4 separate regions of the Homo sapiens genome follow, and regions 1, 3 and 4 are each linked to region 2. Evidence: fine-mapped expression QTL. A gene starts in region 2. Each other region holds a variant in brackets. All regions are shown on one strand. Distances are from middle to middle. Region 1 holds the start of LOC124901147 (a long non-coding RNA gene). Region 2 holds the start of DOK3 (docking protein 3). Region 3 overlaps LOC107986489 (a long non-coding RNA gene). Region 4 overlaps B4GALT7 (beta-1,4-galactosyltransferase 7).

Region 1 (5,194 bases), 570 kb after region 2:
CCAGCCCAGCTGAATCCCACATGCTGGGGGGTCATTTGCCAGGTATCTACTTGTTAAAATGCTTGCTTTGCTATGAGCCATCCCAGCGAGCTCAGACAAATAACACTGTTCTTCAAAATCACAAAAATATATGTAGCCTGCAAAACACACACAATCATTTATTTCAGAAATACACCACCATGCTGGGTGCAGCGGCTCATGCCTGTAATCCCAGCACTTTGGGAGGCCGAGATGGGCGGTTCACTTGAGCCCAGGAGTTCAAGACCAGCCTGGACAAAAAAGCAAGACCCTGTCTCTACAAAAATTTTTAAAAATTAGCCAGGCATGGTGGTGCACACCTGGGTTAGTCCCAGCTACTCTGAAGGCTGAGGCACAAGGATCACTTGAGCCCGGGAAGTCAAGGCTGCAGTGAGTCAAGATTGTGCCACTGCACTCCAGCCTGGGCAACAGAGTGAGCCCTTGTCAAAATAAAGAGGCTGGGCGTGGTGGCTCATGACTGTAATCCCACCACGTTGGGAGGCTGAGGTCAGAGGATCACTTGAGCCCAGGAGTTTCAGATTGGGAGGCTGAGGTGGGAGGATCACTTGAGCCCGGGAGTTCCAGATTAGACAAGATCTCGCTCTTTCACCCAGGCTGGAGTGCAGTGGTGCGATTTCAGCTCATTGCAGCCTTGACCTCCCAGGCTCAGGCAATTCTCCCACCTCAGCCTCCCGAGTAGCTGGGACTACATGTGTATGCCACTACACCTGGCTAACTTTTTATTTTCATTTTTTGGTAGAGATGGGGGTCTTGCTTTGTTGCCCAGTCTGGTCTTGAATTGCTGGCCTCAAGCAATCTTCCTGCTTTGGCCTTGCTGAGATTACAGGCATGAGTCACCATACCTAGCATCATTTTCTTTTCTTTTTTTTTTTTTTTTTTTTTTTGAGACAGGGTCTTGCTCTGTCACCCAGGCTGGAGTGCAGTGGCACAATCTTGGCTCACTGCAACCTCCGCCTCCCAGGTTGGATCGATTCTTGTCCCTCAGTCTCCCTAGTAGCTAGGATTACAGATGTGTGCCACCATGCCTGGCTAATTTTTGTATTTTTAATAGAGATGAGGTTTCACCATGATGGCCAGGCTGGTTTTGAACTCCCGGCCTCAAGTGATCTGCCTGCCTCAGCCTCCCAAAATGCTGGGACTCCAGGTGTGAGTCACCGCTCCCAGCTTCTTTTCTATTTGTATTCTATTTCAGGTTGTTGTTTTTTCCTTTTTTGGTTTAACTGCACTTTTTGAGTATGTAAGATAATGTTCATGATTCGAAAGTCAAAACCATATCAAAAAGTGAGCTCCGAGCATCTCCCTTTCCCATGGCAGACGCGCATTTGAAGGAGCTGCCTCCAGGCCTCCCAACTCCACTGCTCCGGCCTCCAGCCTGGCCCTCTTGGACACAGAGCTTGGACACCCAGGTTCCTGTCAGGACTGAAGTGGCCCAGAGCTGGCAGGGCCTCTAGAGGTCATCCACCATGCTTTTCCCTCCAGCAGACAGAAAGTGGATGTCAGACTTCGGCCACCAGGGCAGGAGCAGAACTCAGGCGTGGCACTTCACAGTTCCAGAACCCTAGGGTCTCTCAGGCTGGAGTGGGGGTGGGGCACTCACCTTTATCCAGCTGTCTCTGCTAGTCAAGCAAAAGCACTGGGCAGGCTGTTTTCTCTAAATCCTCCTGACAACACTGGGAGGTGCTCCAAGGAAGACACAGACACGTGGAAAGCTTCAAAGACGTAACTGGTCTGACCCAAACTCCTTGCTTTTCTGACACTGTATCACAAAAAAATCTTCTCCTGCCATTCCCACCAATCAATTTCATCCTAAGTTCTTCGCTTACACCAGCAGCAGCATCTTCCAGGCTTCCAGGCCAGCAGTGGAGGAGTCATTTTTAGCTCTTCCTTCTCCTTCACCCTGGCATCCCATTTGTGGGCACAGAGCCCGGCCCTAGAGGGCTGGGAGAAACCGCAGAGGGCATCCAGTTCAGCTGCCCACGTAACACTTGGATTTTCTGTAAACATTTGTGGTGAAGCTGCTGCCCAGGCTCAGCCTAAACACGGCCCCCACCTCTGTGCGAGGGAGCTCGCCACTCCCTGACATGACTGTTGCATCTTGAAACGGTTATGATGTTCAAAAGTCTGCCTCAGTTTGAGAGTAAATCTGCCTCCCTGTTGCCTCCTCTCCTCGCTCCCTGCACGCACGTCCACTGGTTCTAGTTTTTTGCGGGGGTGGTATAGAACCGATCTGACCTCTTCTCTGTCTTAGCCCTTTGAATGAGAAAGCCGTGATCAAGCCCCCAGCGGGTAAATATTCCCCATTGCTCCAGCTGGTCCTCATATGACTAGTTTCAAATCACTAGACAGTCTAGTCCCTTCTCCAATCATGCGTCAGTTCATCTAAACTGGGTGTTGCAAACTCAATGCCTAAGGGGGCCAAGCAAGCGGCATGGGTGAGTGAGACGGGTGGAGCGTAGCAATACGGAGTGGTGGGGACTGCAGCCAAGAGGTGTTTCAGCCAATTGCTGCCATGCAGAAGTGAGGCCCTGCATCCCCAGATCCTCTCGTTTTCGAATAGGAATCAGTATAATTTGGGTTTGGATTTGAAATGTTGATTTTTTGAGTTGGTTATTAGTTTTT[CTTT/C]TTTTTTTTTTTTTTCTTTTTTTTGAGACAGAGTCTCACTCTGTCACCCAGGCTGGAGTGCAGTGGTGCGATCTCGGCTCACTGCAACCTCCACCTCCCAGGTTCAAGCGATTCTCCTGCCTCAGCCTCCCACGTAGCTGGGACTACAGGCACGTGCCACCATGCCCACCTAATTTTTTGTATTTTTAGTAGAGACGGGGTTTCACCATGTTAGCCAGGATGGTCTCAATTAATTTTTCAAACACAACACACTATATGAATCAACACTGTGAAGCAAACAAAAACCTATGGGCACCATCCCAGCACTTTGGGAGGCCGAGGTGGGCAGATCACGAGGTCAGGAGATCGAGACCATCCTGGCTAACACGGTGAAACCCCGTCTCTACTCAAAATACAAAAAAATTAGCCAGGCATGATGGTGGGTTCCTGTAGTCCCAGCTACTCGGGAGGCTGAGGCAGGAGAATGGATGAACCCGGGAGGCGGAGCTTGCAGTGAGCCGAAATTGTGTCACTGCACTCCAGCCTGGGCGACAGAGCAAGACTCCATCTCAAAAACAAACAACAAAACAAAACAAAACAAAACAAACCTATGGGCACCAGTGTGCAACCTCTGGTTTACTGGCATCTTAAAATGTGCTACATAAAATTTGCTGGGTGCTGGCCGGGACAGTGGCTCATGCCTGTCATCCCAACACTTTGGGAGGCCAAGGCAGGCGGATTGCTTGAGTCCAGGAGCTTGAGACCAGCCTGGGCAACATGGCAAAACCCCATCTCTATTAAAAATACAAAAATTAGCCGGGTGTGGTGGCACTTGTCTGTAGTCCCAGCTACTTGGGAGGCTGAGGTGGGAGAATCACCTAAGCCAGGGAGGTTGAGGCTGCAGTGAGCAGAGATCACACCACTGCACACCTGCCTGGGCAACCAGAGTGAGACCCTGTCTCAAAAAGATAAATAAATAAAATTTGCTGGGTGTGGTCGCGTTGCCTGTGGTCACAGCTACTTGGGAGGCTGGGGTGGGAGGACAGATTGAGCACAGGACTTCCAAACCAACCCGCAGTGCCCTGACCAGCCAGCTGTCTCCCTCTCCCACCCCTCTTCCTCACCGAAGCCCAGGGCACCCTCATCACCCTGTTGTCAGCCCCTGCCCTAGGGACTTACTGTGGCCAGACCTCAATGCCAGGCCTGGCCCCTCCTGGAGAGCACGCAGGCCAGGGCCTTGTCTCATGCACCCATTGGCTTCTCCCCTCCTTTCTCACCCACTCCTCCACACTTTCGCTCAAGCCAAGCCTGCCTCAAGGTGCCTTCTTCCTCCCCTGCCCGCATCTTACGTCCTCTCTGAGGCCTTCCCTGGTGGCTAAGCCCACAGTGGTGTCCCTCACGTGCTTGGCCAGTACTACGTGTAAAATGGGGAGAATGACAGACCAAACTCAAAGAGTGTCTGAGGAATGAATGAGGGGACTCGGGTCAAGTGCTTGGAGTAGAAGCTGGCACACAGCAGTGCTTGATGAACATCAGAGCCATGCATTATTATTAATATCACTCTTAATATCCCATTTCATGCTGAATCCACACGCTGCCTGGTGCTCTCTTTCACATTTGCTAATCACATCTCTCCAATTGAGTGAGGAAGCAGAAAGGACCCTGGAGGCAGAGACTGGTGGACCTGGATCTGAATTCCATGTTTCCCATGTGTTACCCCAGGGAAGTCACATAACCTTTCTTGGCCTCTGTTTTTGAGTCTGTAAAATGGAGCTAATGAGTCCCCATCCTCAGGGCTGTGATAAGGATCTGATGAGGCAATGTCTGCGAAAGCTCTAAGTAAACTGGGAAGAAATGCTGTGAGAACGACCGTTGCCGGGGAGGAAATTCCAGGCCAGCCATGGTGTTGCTGGAGTCAAGGGCCAGGTGGTTCTGCTTTTGATCAGATCTAGAATGTCCACAAATGGCTAGTCTGTGCCAGACTTTTGAAGTATGAAGTACACTGTAAAGTCACCTCTAAACCTCTCCACTTGTCCCCTCCAGTCTGTCCCCGGCTGCTCTCTGCACCAACTGGCCCTTTTCATTCTCTCCTGGTATCCCAGCCTCCTGACCTCCCTTCCCAGACTCTGCCCACTTAAGTCAATCTCTGCACTGTGGCCAGCATGATCTACCTTCCTGCAGCCCATTCACTCATTCGCTCACTCATACATTACACAATTGTTTATTCAGTTATTACCAGGTGTTCTGGAAATAAAACAGACCAAAATCCCTGCCCTGATGGGTTTTACATTCTAGCAAAATACAGACTTATTATGTAACCTCTGTGCTTTAAAAACTCAACTGGTTTTCCAATTATGCTGGAGTCAACAAAAGTCTTGGCAGGGCGCGGTGGCTCACGCCTGTAATCCCGGCACTTTGGGAGGCTGAGGTGGTCAGATCACGAGGTCAGGAGATCGAGACCATCCTGGTCAACATGGTGAAACCCCGTCTCCACTAAACATACGAAAAGTAGCTGGGTGTGGTGGCACATGCCTGTAGTCCCAGCTACTCCGGA
Region 2 (5,184 bases):
AGCAGCCACTCCCCACTTCTCCCTTCCTCCAGCTCCTGCCAACACTCATCTGATTTCTATCCCAATGGAGTTACCTTGTCTGTACATTTCTTTCTTTCTTCTTTTCTTTTTTTTTTTTGAGACAGGGTCTCACTATGTTGCCCAGGCTGATCTTGAATTCCTAGGCTCAAGCAATCCTCCTACCTCAGCCTCCCAAAGTGCTAAGATTACAGGCAAGAGCTACTGTGCCAGGCGTTTGTTTGTTTTTATGGCTGAGTAGTATTCCATCTTGCGGACGGACCACGTTTTGCTTATCCATTTGTCAGCTGATGGCCATGTAGGCTGTTTCCACCTTCTGGTGGCTGTGAGTAGTGCTGCTATGGACGTTCATGTCCATGTGGGTTTTTTTTTAAGATAGGGTCTTGCTCTGTCTCCCGGGCTGGAGTGAAGTGGCACGATTACAGCTCACTGCAGCCTCGACCTCTGGGGCTCATGCGATCCTCCTGCCTCACATGTACATGTTTTGTTTGAACACCTGTTCAAGTTCTCTTGGGCACACACCTAGGAGTGGACCTGTGGGCCACATGGTAACTCTGTTTACCTCTTTGAAGAACCCCCAGGCTCACTTCCTTTTGACCCATCACAGACCTTTTGGGGCTTTACAAACATGTCCGGCTTAAACCCTCCAAAGCCTTCGCCTCTCACTCAGAACAAAACCACACACATGGCCTAGGGCATTTCAGCCGCTCTCCTAAGCTCTGTGAGTTGGCTTCCTCCTGCACTCCTTTCCTTCCAGCCACGTCGCCTTCTTTCTGCCCTTAAACACCCCACACTGTCCGGCCTCGGGGCCTCTGCCCACGGGACTCCCTCTGTTCACAACTCCCCAGGCTGCCCCTGTCCTCAGACCTTTGCCCAGTGGGTTCCTGTCATTCAGGGCCCTCCTCTGAGAGGCCTTCCCTGGCCACCCTGCCCGTCGCTCCCTCACTTCCTCCTGCTCCCCTGGCGGTCCATTTTCTCCATGGCACGCACGGCCCTCTGAGAGTCATTATAGATTTACTTTTCCCAGGCTTGTAGGTGCTCGGTGGAGCTTGCTGGGTGATGGGATGTGAGCGTGGAGGTGGACAAGTCGGGGGCAGGTGCCCCAGCCCAATCGCCCCCCTGCTCGCCGCACTCACCGGGAAGGCCAGCTGGCAGATGGGGCCCATCCAGGCCTGGCGGTGCTGAGCAGCCAGTAGATGGCTTCGCTCGGTGGTGGTGAGCAGGAAGGCACCGGTGTCCCGGGGGCAGCTCTCGCCGTCAGCCGGCAGCACGGACACACAGTCAGCCAGGCGGATGACCCGTCGCTCCCCTCGCCGGCCAGGCCCTGCCGACCTGTCACCCGCTGCTCCCAGGCCACCATCCCGGACCTCCCAGCTCTCCAGCCGTGCCACGCCTGATGGGCCTCCTGCATACAGCAGAGCCCACACCTTCCGCCAGCACTTCTGCGGGAGGGGAGCGGGAGGGTGAAGACCCTTGGGTGGCAGATTGTCCGTGCCACTTGGCTCAGCACAAGCTGCTCGGCAAACGCTCCCAGCCAGGAGCGGGCCTCTGCTCCCCAGTTTCTCAGGGAGCCAGGTAAGGAGGCCTTGGCTATGCTTGGGATTGGTCAGCCCTGGGTTCAAATCCCAGCCCGCTCTTTCCTAACTGTGACCTCCACAAGCATCAATGTCGTCTCTCAAAAGGCCATGAGAACTCGAGCTGGGACTGCTACTGGGTCATGTTTGTAAAGCATCCAGTGGCCGGGCAGACCACCAGACACTGCCATTATATTGGTTCCCTCTCACCCCCAAAAAGGGGCACTTGGGCCACAGGCCAAGAGCTGGGGTGGGAGGGAGGCCTCTGCCTCAAGCTGTTAAGGAAGGAAACATGCAAATAGCTTCGAGCAAAGGAAACTGACGGTTTATCTGCCTGGGCAGCAGCTGCAGCTGAGCTGCGGGGGTGTGGGGCTGCTGCCGAGGAGAGGTGACCCCCTGCCTCCTTGCTCCCAGGACAGTGCCGCTGCAGGGAGGGGCTCCACCCTTGAGGCCTCCTCCAGCTCAGCCCCTCACCCTATTTAGGGCCCTCGGTGGCACTATTTCATGGGTCAGAGGCTGTGAAGCTCTTCCCTGCTGGGAGGTTTGAGCCTTCGACCCTCTCCCACTCCTGTATTTCCCATCTCTCCCGGAGGCAGGGTCTGGCAGAGCCTGCTCAGCCCCTGCCGTCTCAGGCTGACACCCGCACTCCATTCCACTCCCCATACCTGGGTGGGATCCTCCACCCTGACTCCCTTCCCAAGTCTCCCAGGTCTGCCTGGGCTGTCCGAGGCAGGGGCAGAGGCTGCATTCTCCACCCACTGTTGGTCCTTGGCAGCTGCCTGGCAGCCAGGGGTCCCCACCTTGCCAAACTTGACATGCTGCTGGTAGAGGATGCCATCCTTGATAGGGGTCTCCAGAGGGTCCATGGTCACGGCCAGGAGCAGGGCCGCCGCTTCAAGACCTGGGGAGACTGATGACAGGCTGGACGGGAACTCCTCACACTTCCCCTTCTGGCCACTTCCCGTCCCTCCGTCTAGAGACAGCTGCAGGCCGGGGGGAGGGGAGCCTGTCTTCAGCTCAGGGGCTGGGGGCAGCATGTATTTCCTCCCTGGGGTTCTGGCTGCCCAAGGTGCCCACACCTACCTGGAGGGAGCCCCCGGCCACCTGAAGGCAGCCTTCTCACGCACCTGGTTCAGCTGGGCACGCGCGTCTGATCGCAGTCTGGCTCCCCGAGTCATGAGTTCCCGCCCCTCCCCCGTCCCGCCCCGGGCAGCTGCGCACCCTGGGCCTGACACTCCCTGGCCCTGCCTCCACCCAGGACCCTTCTCTAGCCAACTCCTGGCTTTCCCACTCGGCGTCCTGGTTTGAGCGCCTCACCCCATCTTGCTGCTTTTCTTTCTCCCTGAAATCTCTCTCGTGTTCACCTGCTCCTCTCCACCTCACGAGCCACTGAACATCACCAGCCTTTGGCATCCCCCCAGGGGCCACTGCCCCACTGGGCCTCCATGCAGCACTCTCCACAACCCAAGACCAACCTGTCTCTCCCCTTCCTGGGGTGCAGCCCAGGCTCCTCAGCCCAACACTCAGGGACCTGTGTGTTCTGGCCTGCATCTCCCCCAGGCCAGCCCCTCCAGGGCCCCCTCACCACTGTGCTGCCTGGGGCGGTTGGCCACCTCTTCCTCCTGGAGGCCTCCCTTGACCACTCCACGCTGTCCGAGAGCTCAAAGGCCCTCACGGTATACACTCACGCTGGGCATCCAGTCCACATGGGACCCACAGCCCTGAATGGCCCCAACCACGTGAGTGTGGGTGGCAGGTCCCAGGGGGCCCCGGAGAGGTCACATGTTCATTTAAAGCTTTGCTTCCTGCTGGGGGCGCCTTTTGTTGGCTTGCCTAGCAAGATGCCAATAGCGGGGCTGTGTGTATACCTTTATTCTGGAACAGCCTCAGGTCATTCAGCACCACCTCTGGGAGAGAACATGGAAGAGGATAAGGAATGCCATTTGGGAATGCACTTGGCCAGGAAATATGTCCTGAAGGCCTCCTGGCACCCAGCTCTGTGCCCACTGTGGCCCAAGCAGCCCTAAGCTCCGTCCACCTCAGACGCCACATCCTTTGCGTTCTCATCGCCATTTCAACAGTGAGGAAATCGGTGCTCAGAAAAATTAAGTAACTTGCCCAATGCCACATATCAAGTGACAAATATGGCTTGAGCAACCGCTGTCTCACTGGAATGAGCATGTGGCCATACATGCAAAGTGCCTGGCTCAGAGGAAGTGTGGCCGCCTGTGCCGTCCCTGCCTACCTCTCACCAGATGCTGAGATCCTGCCTCATCTGCTAGCGGTCTTGTGACTGCCGTCCACGTTTCTGCGTGTGCGTCTTTCTCTCCCCTCGCCTGACGGCTTCCCAGGCAGCCATCTCCCTGGCCCATCTAGGTCCTCACAGCTCAGCAGAGCTGGGCACAGAGCAGGCTTAGGGAGAGCTTGTGGCCTAAATGGCAGTTCTATGACATCTGCTGCCTCCTCAGTCAACGGAATGGAGGGCTCCCTCCAGGTGGCTGGCACAGGCAGGCAGTGGGTGGGGGTCCTGAGGCAAGAAGCAGCCTCCCAAGGGGCTTCAGGAGAAGTCCCTGAAACATCACAGCCCTGACAGGAAGAGTGGGCCTGAGAGCTATGACAGCTGGCCAGGGAGACCAGAGAATCCAAGCACTTCTCCTTGGCCCGCCAATGTGGTCCCTCCTTGAGTCATAAATTCAGACAACCCAGTGGAGAGACCCAGAGTCCCCAGAGGCGGGCACCAGCTCGGTGGCTCCTTCCACAGCCAAGTACCAGCAGGCCAGGTGTTGGCAGTGCTAGTGGGAGATGCTGGGGCCTTGCCTCAGAGGGGCTCCAGAGGTCAGAGGTGACGTCTGTCCAGGAACCAGGGGGCGGATGAGGTGAAACACAGAGGCAGGGCCAGGGCTGGGCTAGAGGTTTGGGCTTTAATGGCAGCTGGGGTAAAAGGAAACAAAAACAGTAATTCTGAAGAGCACAGGGAACAGGCAGCCAGGACCAGCCTGGCCCATCCCAGGCCAGCTGAGCTGAAATGCTGATTCTGTCCAGGGGGCTGCTGTATGTGTAGACTGGTGGCAGTCTTGGGGACTGAGGCCTCTTGGAGAGAAGGGAAGACTGTCGGCTCAGAAGTCCATGGAGCTGTGGGCCAGGTAGTCCTTGCGACCGATGTTGCTGACCTGCTTGGTCTGCATAGCCTCGAGTTTGGGGCAGTCAGTGATCCGATGACCCAGGCCCCCGCAGAAGGCACAGCCGCGCTCTCCTGGGGGAATGGGGACAGGGGTCAGCCAAGTCAAGGACCAGGATCCATGCCCTGGACTTCGGGCCCCCCGTTAGGCACCCTCGGTCCACCGGTTTCACGTTTCTGACTTCCAGCACCCCTCCTTGCCACCTGCCGGCTGGGGACTCGGGGATCCCGCTCTGCAGTCACCTCCAATGTCCAGCATGGACTCATCCCCGCAATGCAGCACCTGCAGCACGGGCGGCACCTTCTGCTTGGCTTCTAGCAGCAGCGCTTTGAGGTCCATCAGCACTGACTCATCTGGGGGAGGAGTGGGGAAGCATCAGGGCCCATCCTGGGCTCTGTGGCCAGAACCTGGGT
Region 3 (5,194 bases), 170 kb after region 2:
GGACAGCTATTACCTCTGTTCTCAAAGAGCTTAGCAGTTAAGGAGGTATCACTAGTTGGTTAATGAAGAAAAAATGGTTTCTTTTAAAATAATTTTTAATGAAAAATTCATACATGAGAAAATGTGTGAAGATGCAAATCAAAACCACATTGAGATCCTACTTTATACCCATTTAGGATGGCTATTTTTTTAAAAAACAGAAAACAAATTTGGGAAGGATATGGAGAAACTGGAACCACTGTGCGTTGCTGGTAGGAATGTAAAATGGAGAAGCAGCTGTGAAAAATAGTTTGGCAGTTTCTCAAAAAGTTAGATGTAGAATTACCGTATGATTCAACAATTCTACTCCTAGATATTTGCCCAGAAAAACTGAAAACGGGACTCAAACAGGTACTCGTCTGCAAATCTTCACAGCAGCATTATTTCTAATAGCCAAAAGGTAGAAACAGGTCTTCCTCAGCAGATGAATGGATTAAAAAAAAGTGGTATATACATATAATAGAATAATATATTCAGCCATGAAAAGGAATTAAATTCTGATAACATGTCACATGGATGAACCTTGAGAATATTATGCTAAGTGAAATAAGCCAGATACAAAAGGACAAATATACAATTCCATGTTTATGAAGTACCTAGAATAGGCAAATTCACAGAGACAGATAATGGAATAATGGTTTTTCAGGGGTTGGGGAAGGGGAGAATGGGGAGTTATTGTTTAATGTGTATTGAGTTTCAGCTTGGGATGACAAAGAGTTCTGGAAATGGATGGTGGTGATGGTTGCACAACTTTGTGAATGAACTAATGCCGCCAAATTGTATATTTAAAATGGTTATAATGGTAAATTTTGTGTTACGTCTATTTTACCAAAATAGAACACACTATGTGCATGGTTTTCTTTTATAAAATTTAAAAGCATTACAGACAAGGCTAAAGGCCCCTTTTGCCACCTCCCCCATCCAGATTCGCAATTCCCCCTTTTCAGTGCTGTTATGTTTATTCCTCTAGAGCTGCTTCTGTGTATTTACCTGAATTCATGTGTACTTACTAAAATTAAATACATTTTTAGCTTTATCGAATAACATATCTGCTCTGGTATAGAGTTGTTTATTTTTGAGACGAAGTCTCACTCTATCACCCAGGCTGCAGTGCAGTGGCACGATCTTGGCTCACCACAACCTCCGCCTCCTGGGTTCAAGCGATTCTCCTGCCTCAGCCTCCCGAGTAGCTGGGAGTAGCTGGGCATGCACGCCACCATGCCCGGCTAATTTTTGTATTTTTTTTTTTCAGTAGAGACGGGGTTTCACTGTGTTGACCAGTCTGGTCTTGAACTCCTGACCTCGTGATCCGCCTGCCTTGGCCTCCCAAAGTGCTGGGATTACAGGTGTGAGCCACCGCACGCAGCCTGCTATTGAGATTTGAAACCATCATTTGTGGTAAAAACATTCTAAATACAAAGCTTCCTGCCTTATTAATGGGGATTTTTTTTTTTTTGGTGGTTATTCATCTTTAAAATATTTTTTCTTTTTTCTATTTTTCATTACATGGCAGGGTCAGTGCCTGCAGACCCGCTTTTGTTTATGCTAAAGCCAGCTAGCTCAAGTTTCTCCCTGCTCTAGGGAACATTCTGTCCCTTCTGTGGGATTCCAGGTCTAATCTTCCAGTTTCAGGGCACTCTTAGCTTTTCCACTGGATTGCTTCAGCAGGCGGCCTCTCAGTTTACATAACTTTATTTAAATCATTTTCTTATACTTTCTCCCTGCTTCCTTCCCATCTTCAAATTTGCTGTGATATCAAGGCCTTTGTAAAAATTTTGTTTCATTCCCTATGTTTGAAGAATCCTCATTTGAGAAAGTTAAAGCAATTGAGAAAGGTTACGAAGCAGAATGTGTAACTCCATCATATTTTGATAACATCTTTCCAGATATCTCTAAATGGCCGATACTCACATGTGCAAAATTTTTACATAAATGGGATCAGACTATGCATATTGCATCACAGTTGGTTTTCTTAAATTAATATGTCCTTATGGTTTTCTGTGTCAGTGAACATGGATCT[A/G]TAGTATCCATATTGTCTATTGGCTCATATTTTAAAATAGCGTATTTGCTTTTATATAGAAAACCACAAAGAAGCAAGCAAAAAAATATACCACGTTCTCCCATTCTTGGTATCCCTCATTGAACAGTTTGTAAAACTAAAAGAAACATCTTGTGAGTTCAGTAAATTCTTGCTACCAAAACTTACAAAATGAAAAGTGAAAGTTGAAAGCCACCCTCTCTTTCCTAGTTCTTCCTCCTAACACTAAATACCTTTATTAGTTTCTTGTAAATCCTTCAAAACATACTTACTTACTACACATACTTATCTGTTCTAACACACCATAAAAATCACACTGTACAGTTATTTACTTTGCCTTTTGTAATTTATCATGGGCATTATTTCCTAACTGCAGGGTAAACATATCTGTCACTTTTTAACAGCTTACATTAAAAAGTCATTTGTTAGGCTGTGCCATAATTTATTTAATTGGTTTTCTATCATGGATATTTTGGTTGTTTCTAGGGTTTTTGTGTATTTTTGTTATTACTATTACCAATTATGTTACAACAACATCTTTGAGCTTCTAAGAAGTCTTGCCAGCATATCTGCAGGGAAATTCTTTTTTTTTTTTTTGAGACGGAGTCTCATTCTGTCGCCCAGGCTGGAGTGCAGTGGCACCATCTTGGCTCATTGCAAGCTCTGCCTCCCGAGCTCACACCATTCTCCTGCCTCAGCCTCCCGAGTAGCTGGGATTACAGGCGCCCGCCACCACGCCCGGCTAATTTTTTTTGGTATTTTTAGTAGAGACAGGCTTTCATCCTGTTAGCCAGGATGGTCTCGATCTCCTGACCTCGTGATCTGCCTGCCTTGGCCTCCCGAAGTGCTGGGATTACAGGCGTAAGCCACTGCACCTGACCCGGGAAATTCTTAAGCATGGGGGACTGGGTTAGAAGATGTGTGTTTTACATATTGATAGAAATTCCCAAATTGTCATCCAGAAAGGTTGCACCAAATAACGTATCAACAAAAGCACTTGGGAGTGCTTATTTCCCCAAATTCTTCAAGCACTGGTTATCAGACTTTTTAGTTGTTGCCAATCCAATAATTTAAGGTTGGTATCTTGTCCTGATTGCCTTTACTTCATTATGAGTGAAGTTATGACACTTTTAAAGTGCTCATTGGCTATTTGTAGCTTTTTCTTTAAACTGTGTTCATATACGTTGACTTTTTTCTCCTATGCTGTTCATCTTTTTCAGTAACAGTGAAATCTATATGAATAGCTAACATTTACAAAGTATTACATTGCTTGCATATTCAACAAGACACCAAATAATGAACATTTAGGATGTTTACAGTATTATCTTGCTACTTTAAACATTCTTGCACATACATCTTTGTACTTTGGACCAGATATCTATCTGTTTAAGTTAAATTTCTAGAAGTGGAATTGCTGATTTAAAGTTGAATTATTTGTCCAAATGTTCCAAAGAGCATTGTGTGATAGGGGAATGGTCCAAGTGAAGAAGTAGGAAAGAAAGGAACTAAACAGTTACTCCCAATTGCAAGGCCAGTCAGCTCTAAATTAGAGTTTAGTTAGCAGGCTAATTGATGATATCATCCTACCTGCTTTCATCAATAAGCTTTGTAAAATCCTAACTCTCTTTCTCTATTTGAGTGCCCAGACCTCCTGGGAGTCTGCAAATTCTAGGGTTAAAAAAAAAAAAAGAAAAAGTAATTTTGTAATTTTCAGGTGAGCAATAGTATTAAAAATTATAAGCACATTCTGAATCATTTTATGACCGTACAACTCCAACATTGGCTTTATATTTCTGTTTATAGTTGCCTGCATTGGTGCATAATGTTTTTGTCTTTTTTTTTTGAGACGGATCTTGCTCTGTCCCCCAGGCTGGAGTGCAGTGGCACCATCTCGGCTCACTGCAAGCTCCGCCTCCCCGGTTCACGCCATTCTCCTGTCTCAGCCTCCCAAGTAGCTGGGACTGCAGGTGCTCGCCACCACGCCTGGCTAATTTTTTGTATTTTTAGCAGAGACAGGGTTTTACCGTGTTAGCCAGGATGGTCTCGATCTCCTGACCTCGTGATCCGCCTGCCTTGGCCTCCCAAAGTGCTGGGATTACAGGCGTTAGCCACCGCGCCTGGCCAGGTGCATAATGTTTTAAGGCACTATGGTAGTTCATGAATTTTAACTAAGTGGAGGGAGGTAGTGGGAGAATTGAGCCAGTTTACTCATGGGGCATGTGGACTCCGGGGCAAGCAGAGCTCAAAAGAACCTGGGCAAAAGCAATCCTTTAAGTTAGAAGAATGTAGGAAATGATTTGAGGGAGGATGAGTTGAGCAAATCCTGTCTTTGTACAACTTGTTCATTAGCAGCAAGTGTAGTAGGAAACAATGACATTGTTTTACATTTCTGATTTGAGTAATAATTAGATTAGGACACCAATTCAAGCCAAATTGCATTAATGACCACAATGTCCACCTTAGTTTTACAGGAGTTATTGGGTAACTGCATAAAACCAGGCATTCCAGGATTGTTTGGAGGTGGTTTTGACCAAGTATGAGGTCTACCTTGAGGTAGCAAAGAACTGAAGTTATTAACACCATTTTGTACAGAATAATTATCTGAACATTTTCTGCATTCATGTTATTGACAAAATCAATAGACAAAAGTTGGTGTGCTCTCATGTTTTGTTCTAATATGCATTTAATTAATAATGATATATAAAATGCTATTTTTTCTTTGTTCCAATGTTACTTTCTTGTGAAAAAAGACATCCAAGACAAAAATCTACTACTCACATTAAGTTGTCCTTTGTCCTAGTTACCATTACATATTCAGTTTTACATATTTTAACAATATTGTGGTTAGACTTTGGATTTATACATTTCACTTAGCATACTGTGAATATTTTCCAATTTTGCAAATCTGTTTGTTATCTCCCTTTATGCTCTTCTTATACATTCTTTGTTGACCACCAGCATGACCACCATCACCAGGCAAATGTTGTTTGCCCAGGTATGTAAGCCTGTACATATTTCTCCATAATCATGTAAGCCTCTCCAAAGATATACAGACACATGTACACCACATAGAAATATATAAAATATATGTTAGAGATTGTGAATTTGTCATTTGCT
Region 4 (5,000 bases), 96 kb after region 2:
ATTGTGAAGTGGATTCCTTTGCAGATTACTTTGGGGAGAAGGTAGGGGGAGTACAGAGGAAGCTTCTCCCTTCATGGATTCCTCAGCTCCTGTCTCAGCATACTCAGGAACTTCCAGAGGAGCGGCAAAGGAATCTGGTGAATTCTGTTTCTTTGTATTTGCTAACCAAAAGGCTGTCTCCTGGCATCACCCCAGTGTCTGTGATGTTCAGCTGTTTTTCCAGTTTCTGAAATCAGTGCCTGTGCTGTACCCAGCCCTCATCTTTCTTTCCCTCTCCATCTCCCATCTTTTATCATGAGCTGCCTCTTGGACTAAAGGTTTGAGGCTCGTTCAGTGAACCGCCACTGACAGTTTGGGCCTTGCATTGCTTCGGGGGGCACGTCTGATCTTCCCAGAGTAAACATTGGTCATTTTACCTGGACTAATGCCAGCACACACCCGTGTCTGGGTGGCCTTTCTGGTCATTCTTGGAAGCAGGATGGAGCCACGGTTTCTGCTGGGGTGGATCTGTAGGGGAGCGGGTTTGGAAAGCAGTGGGTTGCATCTCTAAGGTGGGGACTCCTGTCATTGGCTCAGGACATTGAGCCACTATCGTGGGGAGGAGCACCTGCAAGTGACAGGAGCCTCCTCATCCTTGCCCTGAGCAGCTCTGACCAGGACTCAGTCACAGAAAGTAAGAGAGCATTGAGGAGCCGGGGCAGCTCTGTGAACTGGGAGTGGTTCAGAGGGCTTCCCGAGAGCGGGTGGCATGGGTTGGGTCTAGAGAGGCAAGCAGGATTCGGATGCATGGTAGTGGCATGAGCAGAAACATTAAAGTTGCTTCTGTACTAATTCCCAGGTGCTTGGGGTAGACGAGTTATGTGCAGCCTCCTCGTGGGGAGGCCAGAGAACGGGTCTGTCACAGGGCCAGCCCTGCCCCGCCCTCCTGACCCTGTCCCGCGCTTGCTCCAGGTCCGGGTTGCTCTCCGGCGGCCTCCCTCGGAAGTGTTCCGTCTTCCACCTGTTCGTGGCCTGCCTCTCGCTGGGCTTCTTCTCCCTACTCTGGCTGCAGCTCAGCTGCTCTGGGGACGTGGCCCGGGCAGTCAGGGGACAAGGGCAGGAGACCTCGGGCCCTCCCCGTGCCTGCCCCCCAGAGCCGCCCCCTGAGCACTGGGAAGAAGACGCATCCTGGGGCCCCCACCGCCTGGCAGTGCTGGTGCCCTTCCGCGAACGCTTCGAGGAGCTCCTGGTCTTCGTGCCCCACATGCGCCGCTTCCTGAGCAGGAAGAAGATCCGGCACCACATCTACGTGCTCAACCAGGTGGACCACTTCAGGTAGCGCCCGCCCCCACCCTCTCCCCTCGGCACCCCTGCCCGGGCTCAGGCTTCTCAGGCCCTGTGAGAGGCCACCTGGGGCAGGGGCAGGAGGGCGGGAGGTGGCAGACCCCTCTCACTGGGTGTGACAGGAACCTTTGGAGAGGGCCCTGATCTAATTTCCATTTTGAAAAGCTCACTGTGGCTGCCGTATGTGGAATGGATTATACCAGGGCAAGAGGAGAAGCAGGGAGAGCAGTTAGGTGGTCACTGCTGTGGTCTGCGGTGACAGTGGCTTGATGGCCTGGTGGGGGGTGGGTAGAGAGAGGTGCTGTGGAGGAAGCCCAGACAGGACTCCCTGGGGATTGGCCCGGGGATTAGGGAAAGGGAGGGTCAAGGCCACGGCTTTAAAGTTGCCCACAGTCTGGCGTTATCCTAAAATCCCTGCCCTTACCAAAAAGTGCTCCCTTCCATGACCACAGCCTGAGATCTCACCCACCAGCCCCCACCTCCTTTCCCTCTAGGTAACTCCCACTGGAAGATGGATTCTCAGCCCCACCAGCCTGATCTTCCCACCTTTTCAAGTCCCCTTGATCCAGATCCCCAGACCCCCCCCTTTTCCCTGCCACCCTTCTTGTCTTTACTTCCTCCTTACCCAACCTGGAGTCCAAGGTCCATCATTAAAACCCTCCCTGGCATACTCCCTCAAGCCTCTGGTCCCTTGCTGCTGGCGTAATCCCAGCCTGATTTACTCCAGCTCTCTGCTCCACACCTGTGCCTGGGCACTGGAGGGTATGGAGAGGAAAGACAACACGTGAGGCGGCCATGCTGCTGTCCCCATGCCGATGATGCCCCTGCCAGGAAGGCCCTCTGCCCTGCTGGGAGCCTCACTTTCCTCTGGTCTGTCCACTGCAGCCTTTAAAACTATCTGTTCTCCTCATTCATCCCTCGTCCTCACTCATAGCTGACGACTTTGCTTCCAATTTCAGAAAACAGAATGAAATGGAAGAGAACTTTCCCCAGTTCCCTCCACAACTCACCTGCCAGCCTCTGTGCACAGGGACTCAAGGCTGTTCCAGCTTCTGTCCGGGCTGACTCCCACCATCCCCATCCTTCAGTATTTCCCCCCACCCCACAGTTGGGCCCTTCCTCTCCCTCTCGATCAGCGTTCCTCTCCTGGAGCATACCCATGAGCACACACACCCTGAAGTGGCTCCTCTCTCAAAGGAAAAAGACTCCCTGGATCCCACATCCCTCGAGGCTGTCACCCTTCTCTGCTTTCTGGCAGACCTCCTTCCCTTTCTCTCCCCTCGTCTCTCTTGAACCCCTTCCGCTCAGACTCCTGCACCCACCATGGCACAGAGCAGCTCTCACTGAGGTCACCAGCCACCTCCTCCACTCTGTTGGTCCAGAGGCCATGCTGGGCCCTCATCCTGTGGACCTGCCAGCAGCATCTTCTTTCGTAAAATGCC[C/A]CTGCTTGGGGCAGCACCCTCTGGTCCTCCCTCTGCACTGGCTGGGCCTCTGTGTCTGTGGGTTCTGCTCATCTCCCCGAGCTCTCACCATCGGGGCTTCTCTGGACTCGGTGCTTCGGCAGCCCCCCTTTTTTAACTCCAGGTGTTCCTTGGGGCATCTCATGTCATCTCCAGCATTAAACCACGTCTCTGATGATTCCTGAGGCTGTTTCCTGGAGTTCTCTCCTAAACTCCAGGCTCAACAGCCCAGCCATCTACACAGTCCCTCCACGTGGTGGCCTCAGAGCTACTGCAAGCTTCCATGATCACAGCTGAATTGCTGGTGGCCTGCCCTGCCCCAAACCTGTAGCTCTGTCCTCTTCTCCATGGGAATGGAAGCTCTTTGCTCTCATTGCTCAAGCCCAAAAGCCCGGGGGTCATCCTCAGCTGCTCCTTCTCTGTCATACACTGCGTCCTATTCGTCAGCAAAATCCATCTAGAATCTGCCCGCTTCTCGCTGTTGCCACTGCCACCTCCTGAGCTAGGCCACCTTCATCTTTTGGTCTCTCACCTAAATCATTGCCATAGTCTCCCAGCTGGTCTCCCTGCTTTCACCCCTGCTCTGACAGTCTCTTCCAGCACAACAGCTAGGGCGGTCCTGTCCAGGCATAAGTCACAGCACGCCTCTACCCTGCTCAGAGCCTCCATGGCACCCATCTTACCCGAGTCAAAGCCCCGTCCTTCAGTGGCCCTTGGGCCTTGTGCAGTCACTGTGTCACCCCCAACATCCCCACCTCTGCCCTCGCCCTGCCCAGCTGCCCGTTGGTCTGCTCCTGCCTCCTGCCGTGGCAGTGCCATCTCTCCTATGCAGAGCCCTAGGCACCCACTGCCCTGTGGGTCATCTCTTCAGGCCTTCAGGTTTCTGTCACTCAGTTCCCCTGGCCCTCCCTGACGGCCCCACCGAGGACAAGAGCCACCTCCACCCCCAGCAAGATCGCCCTCCTTGCCTGCTTTGCTTTTCCCCCCAGCACGAACCACTGCTGGCCACGCTTTGTGTTTGCTTGTTTCTGTTTCCTTCTATTGGAATCTCAGTTCCTTGAGAACAGGGCCTGGTTTTTCACTGCTGTACCTCCCGTGCTTTGAATGGTTTCTGGCACATAGTGGGTGCTTAGTAAATATGCGATGAGTGGAGGGACTGCCCCACAGGCTGAGTGAAGTCAGTGCTGGGCCAGAGGGCAGCATAGGCACCATGGGGACCCCCGGGTGGGTGCTGAGCCCCAGGCAGTGAGCCCGTGTGCTGCCCCTGCCCAGCCTTGCCCACCCTGCACAGGTTCAACCGGGCAGCGCTCATCAACGTGGGCTTCCTGGAGAGCAGCAACAGCACGGACTACATTGCCATGCACGACGTTGACCTGCTCCCTCTCAACGAGGAGCTGGACTATGGCTTTCCTGAGGCTGGGCCCTTCCACGTGGCCTCCCCGGAGCTCCACCCTCTCTACCACTACAAGACCTATGTCGGCGGCATCCTGCTGCTCTCCAAGCAGCACTACCGGCTGGTGAGGCCCGGACAGCCTGCTCTGCTCAGAGCCGGGAGCTCCCTCCAGGCTGCGGGTGGTGGGAAGGATGGGGCAGTGCCTCTGGGGCCCAGCAGATGGAGCCCTGCCCTGGCCTAGCAGGAGAACTTGGGAGCAGCCAGAGTGCGAAGAGCAGGCGAGCCAGTCAGCCGCAGCAGCAGAACTGCTTGCACGGGGGCTTCAGAAACCTGGGTGGTTAGTGGCCCTTAACACTGAAGAGTGTAGGGGCGGTTCAGGTGTACCTTGCCCACCTCTCAGACAGTGTCACCAGGACCCTGTTTCTCTGTGCATCTCCCAGCTCTCCTTCCCTGCACTGGGTTTATTGGCAAGGTGGTGGTTGTTACTGCAGTCTGTATCCATCTAGGCCCCGGGCTGGTGGGAGATGGGGCCCTTCCCTTGTAGCTCAGGCAGGAGTCCCGCAGTGAGCTGCACTGGCTCTTGATTGGCCGGCTTGAGTGCTGAGCCCACCCCTCAGCCAGTCACTGGCTGGTGGACGGGCAGGCAGGAAGAAGCACTTGTGGCTCAGGCCTGGGTGTCCTCCTCTCCAGGCCATGGCAGGGGCCAGCTTTATGTAAATGAAGCCCCTGAGCCAGGTGCAAGAATGGGTGTCTGTCATGGAACCCTGCTACCCCTCTCACACACACAGGAAGAGATGAGGGCAGGGCCACCAGGAGAAAGGGGA

The links. PIP is the estimated chance that this variant, and not a neighbour inherited with it, causes the effect.
Region 1: its variant is fine-mapped to the expression of DOK3 in whole blood (INTERVAL, PIP 0.93).
Region 3: its variant is fine-mapped to the expression of DOK3 in whole blood (INTERVAL, PIP above 0.99).
Region 4: its variant is fine-mapped to the expression of DOK3 in whole blood (TOPMed, PIP above 0.99).

Annotation. Positions count from the first base shown.
Region 1 is chr5:178,076,371-178,081,564 of GRCh38, forward strand. LOC124901147 (a long non-coding RNA gene) reads right to left here and starts at 1,900. Exons shown (of 2, transcript XR_007059076.1): 1 at 1,637-1,900. The variant CTTT/C (reference allele first, on the strand shown) is at 2,659.
Region 2 is chr5:177,507,083-177,512,266 of GRCh38, forward strand. DOK3 (docking protein 3) reads right to left here and starts at 2,744. Exons shown (of 6, transcript NM_001308236.3): 1 at 2,676-2,744; 2 at 2,393-2,575; 3 at 1,155-1,460. The coding sequence starts at 2,458. DDX41 (DEAD-box helicase 41) reads right to left here. Exons shown (of 17, transcript NM_016222.4): 16 at 5,014-5,124; 17 at 4,495-4,845. The coding sequence ends at 4,709. RefSeq lists enhancers at 1,000-1,109, 1,130-1,179, 3,000-3,149 and a silencer at 2,730-2,869.
Region 3 is chr5:177,675,723-177,680,916 of GRCh38, forward strand. The region is part of intron 1 of LOC107986489 (a long non-coding RNA gene); the gene reads left to right. Among named protein-coding and RNA genes, the nearest start is that of B4GALT7, 78 kb to the left of the region's middle. The variant A/G (reference allele first, on the strand shown) is at 2,060.
Region 4 is chr5:177,603,228-177,608,227 of GRCh38, forward strand. It overlaps B4GALT7 (beta-1,4-galactosyltransferase 7), which reads left to right. Exons shown (of 6, transcript NM_007255.3): 2 at 952-1,314; 3 at 4,075-4,300. Among named protein-coding and RNA genes, the nearest start is that of B4GALT7, 5.6 kb to the left of the region's middle. RefSeq lists an enhancer at 3,395-3,998. The variant C/A (reference allele first, on the strand shown) is at 2,766.